Regions from separate parts of the Homo sapiens genome. Here region 2 is linked to region 1. Evidence: fine-mapped QTL for protein levels in blood plasma. Region 1 holds a variant in brackets. A gene starts in the other region. All regions are shown on their reverse strands.

What was found. PIP is the posterior inclusion probability: the model's chance that the variant is causal. Protein levels are from antibody-based Olink assays in UK Biobank. Linkage for the fine-mapping came from a reference panel and not from the study's own genotypes, which makes the PIPs less certain.
Region 2: MEPE starts here. The variant in region 1 is fine-mapped to the plasma level of the MEPE protein (UK Biobank, PIP above 0.99).

The regions. Positions count from the first base shown.
Region 1 is chr7:28,684,678-28,687,592 of GRCh38, reverse strand. All of the region lies in intron 5 of CREB5 (cAMP responsive element binding protein 5), which reads right to left. Among named protein-coding and RNA genes, the nearest start is that of TRIL, 270 kb to the left of the region's middle. RefSeq lists enhancers at 1,666-2,174, 2,391-2,440 and a silencer at 2,113-2,282. The variant C/T (reference allele first, on the strand shown) is at 1,674.
Region 2 is chr4:87,831,680-87,834,594 of GRCh38, reverse strand. It overlaps MEPE (matrix extracellular phosphoglycoprotein), which reads right to left and starts at 1,626. Exons shown (of 4, transcript NM_020203.6): 1 at 1,581-1,626.

The DNA.
Region 1 (2,915 bases):
AGTGTTTGCCCTCTTGTTTTAGTGGGTTTCAGTTTATTACTATCTAGTAATGCCGGATGGTGTCAGAAAGCACCCAACTCAGGCAGCATATCACAATACGAAATCTATTCTATGAAACAGAAATGTGGTAATAATTTTCAAAACATCAAAGTCTCTCTCTCTGAGTACACGAGATCCTTAAAACATTAAGAACACAATCCTTTGCCCCCTCTCCCTGTATTTCCTGTTAATTTCTTACTCTGAAATATTAACTGTTTCTAAGACAACTCAATCAAGAAGTCTTCATCATCGCCCCCTCACTACTGAAGCATATCATCTAAAAAATTAATTCAAGAACATAAAAGTCTTAAAGATAGCACCGGATTAATTAGCACGTGGAACAACAGAATGTCAACATGCTCAAGCAAATGCACAATTGCTGTTAACCTTCACTGAAATAATAGGGGAAAGGCTATAACTACTTTTGAGGATCATCATCTATTACTTTTAAAAGCTGCAGTATATTCTTAATAATAAATGGAACAGCACAATCATTCACTTTTCATACAACACACAGTTTTCCAGTCATTTACAATTCACCAGTTACACTCAAAAATCGCCCCCCCAACCCCCCAACCAACCACCACACCATCACTTCCACCTTTTATGAAAAGACAACAGTTTTAAGCCATTTAAAAAACAGAGAGAGAGAATCCTGGCAGAAAATAATACACAGCTGTGATAATATCGTGTTATTTTAAAATACCATAATATAGTTTTACTTTTAATAATAAAAGATAAAAAAGGAGCGTCTGTGAATAATTAGAGATTGCAGTCTGAAGCCGGTTACAGTCACTGCAATTGATAATAAACTGAAAACCCCTTGAGAGCAGGTAAATGCTTTGCAACCCTGACCCCCTCGCTCTCACATTACTTAACTACCCTTCGGTTCTTGCATTACATCACCATTCAAGCGATTGGTTCCTGCATTTTAACTCTCTCCCTGTCTCCTCCGATTAGGAGCGACACCGCAGCAAAGAAACTTCGCCCGAGTTTGCTCTTTCTCGCTTCGCTCTTTATTTGTGGCCCTTTTGCTCTGGTTGCTTTGGTTTGCTCTGCTTTTTTTTTTTTTTCTTTTTTCCTCCAACCCGGCCTCTGTTCAACTCATTCAGGTCTCTGTGCTAGAACAAAAACTCTGATCGAAGTGAAAAGAAATGCCTCTTCGGGCAAGAAGAGGAGCGGAGGGGCTGGGGAAAGAGGAGAAGGAAGAAGAGGAGAAACAAAGACGGGCAGAAAGGGAGAAGGGGGAGAAAATGAAGAGGAGGAGGAGGAGGACGAAGGCTCAAAAACAGAAGGCAGTAGGGGCAAAAAAAATCTATAAAATCAGGAGAAAAGAAAATAAAATTAAAAACAAACCTCATGGACATCACTGAGGCTGAATTCCCTCCTGAGGTGCAGAACATGAGAGCTCTGGAATGAGTGTGTGTAGAATTTGAGCCAAAGCTTAACTAGCTTGAGTGAGTCATATCCTTCCCATTTGATTCCAGGCCAAGCGATGATGTAATGTGCTGGCCCTTCTTTTGCGCCTAGCTCTGGCTCTCCCTCCGGCTGGGCTCTCGCTCACTTGCTCTCTTTCTCCTGGTCTCGCCCTCCTCCCCCTTCTCCTTTTTAGCTCAGTGCTAGTGAAGTCACCA[C/T]TTAAATCTGGCAGAACTGAAGCAAAAACTTCAATGTAACCAAAACAGCCCCAGGCTGAGTTCCAGGCTCGGAGAGCCTTCGTGGTGCACTTGCCCTTAGAAACGGGTAAACAAAGGGGGAAACAGTGCCGCTGGGGATGGCCCTACAGCTGCCATCAGAGAGCTCCAAGAGGGACCCGGAGTTCTGCAGGCAGGGGTCAGCTGGTTCTGCTGGAAACAAAAAAAAAATACTGGTTAAAAAAAAAAAAAAAAAAGAGTGCCCTGTGTTTGGAGAAAGGGAAATAACATCAAGACACGTGTAGAGATGGGGAAGCAGGGAGTGAAAGATGGCAGGTTGGAAGGTCTGAGTGTGAAAAACTAACCTCAGTTAGCAGCTTGGGCTTTGGTTCAGAACCAGGTGACAGGGTTTCCATCGCCCAGGGCCCTTTTTTCCTGGAGCTGGATGGGATTTTCTGTTGCTGAATGCCAACCACCAGCCCTCCGGAGACTTCTCGCATCTGACCTCCCTGTCAGCGAGGGCAAAACCACTTCTGGTCCAAACACGTGCCCGTGTCTGGAGCCACCAAGGGCTGTGAAATCACAGTCACTTCTCCCTTGGCCCCTATGGGTCACCCTGTCAGGTGCTAAAGGAAAAAGACCCCAGCCACAAAACACAAAACTTGCCTTTCTGAGATTAGCACTCCACCCTCAGGTGAACCTTCCAAAGGAGAGGGAAGGAAGACAAGTTCTCCCTTAAAATGAAAGACAGGCTGTGCCCCCACAACTCAACTCGCTGGAGGGGGTGCTGGTGTGGGTGGGGCCGTCTGTGACTTTAAAGAGGAGAACAGACAGTATGTGTGTCTCTTTTTTAATTACAGAGTGAGGAAAAACAGCCTGGGGAGGTGGGGGCAGTCAAGCATGATCCTTCACAAATGACAGTGAAGCCTTTTTAATGGCTGAATTCTACCCCTCACTTCACACCTCCCCACTCAGGGCTCCACCACGACAATGACAACAGTCCAGACACTACTCTATTAGCAGGGCTTTTTAACCCCATCATCTCTCCGTTTTGCTATTTCTCCCCACACTTCATGTTTCCTTCAAAAAGAAAAAAGTAACATGAAAATGGGAAGTTCGCTAGAATTTTTTTTAAATACCACAAAAGCAGAAGAAAGGCATGAAGCTGCAATTTTTTTTTCCTTTTCCAAAAATGACCATGGCTTGTGCTACAGTCTATTGCCCCTAATGCCTTTTGTGGCCAAT
Region 2 (2,915 bases), not on the chromosome of region 1:
TTCATATCCTTTTGTGTATGTGTGTGTATAGACTATGTATAACTTGCTTATACCCGAGTGTGGACATTTTAAGAACTTTCATATGTCTAGTTATTCCAATGTGAAAATGAAAATTATTCAATATCATTAAAACAGTAAAGTCAGTTGATAGAAATATATTTTATAGACACATTTATTTGCTCTATCATCAGCTCTTCTTCCTCTTGTCTTTAGAAAGAGATTGTTTAATTATTTGTGTAATTCAAAATGACATTAAGTTGATGTAGCAGCTCATAACACACTCTAAGTTTGTCAGGGTAGCAGATTGCACTGTGAGGAAAGCTTATCTGCCTCCGGGCTGGTGCCCTAATCTGTGTCTCATGTTCATTAGCAATGTGTCTGAATTAGTAGCCATCCATGGGCTGGAGAGTGAACTAATTTTTGCAACACTGACATTAATGGCTAACATTTATTGAATACTAAAATGAGCCAAGCACTGGGTCTAAGAATTTTGCATGCATTCAATTATTTGAGCCTCACAACAACCCTACAAGTTAGGCGGCGTTACTATGCCTGTTGTATAGATTAGGAAATAGACACAAAAAGATCAAATAACTTGCTTTAGAATTCACAAATATTAAGGGGCAGAACTGGGATTAGTATCCAGGCAATGTGGCTCTAGACCCAGTTTTCTTCATCAAGACTCTCTGCCACCTTAAATAACTTTCTATTCTTTTATCTTATTACAGAAAAATCCATGTACAGTTGACTTAAAGGCAAATCATATTTTATATTGGGCTCAACAAAATGATGTTCAAAATACTAACATTTAGTTACAAATAAAGGTATTTGTTTATATTTTGGTAAATATACCAACAGGAACTAGTGAGCTCACTTAAGTAGCCATTAGATTGGAAAAAAGTCAACATGTCTTTGGACTATTGATCTTATTATTATATTGTGAAAACAATAAATTTATGCCACTCTGAGATTTCTTGAAGAAAAACTTGTTTTTATGGGAAAAAATAATCTAAATATTCTTGCAATCTTTAAACACCTCAAGGAAAAGCTGGTATTTGGAGAAATGATTGTAACTATTAAATATATTCTAAAATCCTAGGCTATGTTTTTCTAAATTAATGCAATTAGAAGGATCTAAATTCTAACTATAGTTTACCCTTCCAAGCATTTTATAGATCAGGACAACGTAAGTAACTTATGAAATGAGTTAATGCTCATCAGTAGAAATATCAACACAGATGAGGTTTCAAAGTATGAATAAGATCAGATTTTCCTGATTGCAGTTTGTTAAGTGAAGGGATAGAAGAAAACTGAAGTCTGAGTTACTGTGGATCTTGATAATGCTAATAACAAAAAAAAAGAGAAAGTTGCTATCAAATCATCAATTTTAGTTGATGATTTCTAGAGCATGGTAACGCATTTCCTATTTTATAAAACAAAGCACCAAATATTACACAGTTTTGCTCAGTAGAGAAGATTTTCAAAAGTAATAAAACCATACTTGGGTGGCAAGCATCTTAAAAACGTAAACAACTATGATATAAAGCTATTTGCTGTCAAGAACATGAAAGCCAAATTACCTGGTATCTTTCACCTTCAGAATACCTGGCTTCTTGTTGCAGGATTAGAAGTCTCTGGGCATTTTGCTGAAATTTAAAGTTTGTTAGAGTTCCCAATGGCCAATCAGCACTGGCTCACTCAGCGCTAGCAAACAATTTGTTACAAGCGCCCACAGATAACCATAGGGGGTGAAGTAATTTTAATCTAAAAATGTGTTTGTGGTAGAAAGCTACTATCAAATGTTCCAGAAAGTGGGATAAACAGAAAATATAAATACCTCAGTTTGGACATCATGTTGTCAGATAATCAAAATTGATTTCAGAACTGCTAATTAGGACTGACTGAATACCTAACAAGTTTAGAAATGGAAAACATTTTTGCTATCCTTTTATGTAGAAAGTTTATGATGTCAATTTTATCTAAGTGAAATTCAGCAACATTTAACAAAAATGTTTTAGGTGCCTACTGTGTGACAGGCATTGGCGAAACTGCAGTGAACAAAACAAGACAGAAAAAAATCCCTGTCTTCCTGGAGCTTAGAATCCAATAAGGGAGACAGATAATAAACAAGATAAATGAGTTAAATAGATTAGATAGTGACATATACTAAGTCTAAGGAGAAAAAGTATTGTTGGGGAGTAACAAGCATTGGGGGTGGGGACACTGGGTTGAAATTTTAGATAGGAAGTCCTGGGAAGGCCTCAATGAGAAGGCAACTTTTGAGTAAAGACCTTGTTATGGTTTCAATGTACGTGTCCCTCCAAAATTCCCATGTTAGAACTTAAACCCAAGGTGACAGTATTGAGAGATGGGCTCTTTAGAAGGTGATTAAGTCATGAAGGCAGACCCCAGTATGAATGGGATTAATGACCTTATAAAAGGGCAAGAAGAAACTAGCTAGTCCCTTTTTGCCCTTCTGCTTGTCTGCAGTGTGAAGACACAGCATTTGTCCCCTCTGGAGATGCAGTAGCAAGGTGCCAAATTGGAAGAAGAGATAGACAGCCCTCGTCAGGCAATGAACATGCTGGCCTCTTCATTGCGGAATTCCCAGCCTCCAGAACTGTGTGAAATAAATTTCTGTTTTTTATAAATTACCCAGTCTGTGGTATTCTGTAGTAGCAGCATGAACAGACTCAGATAAGCCTGCAGCCATATGACTGTCTATGGGAAGACCATTCCAGGAAGAAGAAATAAGAAAAATAGTGCCCCAGAAATAAAAGCCTTGTGACTTGTTCCAGGAACAGAGAAGAGGCCACTTTGGTTGGAGGCCTGAGCAAGGGGAATAGCAACAAATGAGGTCAGAAGGGTATTAGATGGCAGATGGTATAGGACCTGTAGGTCATTGCAATGCTTTT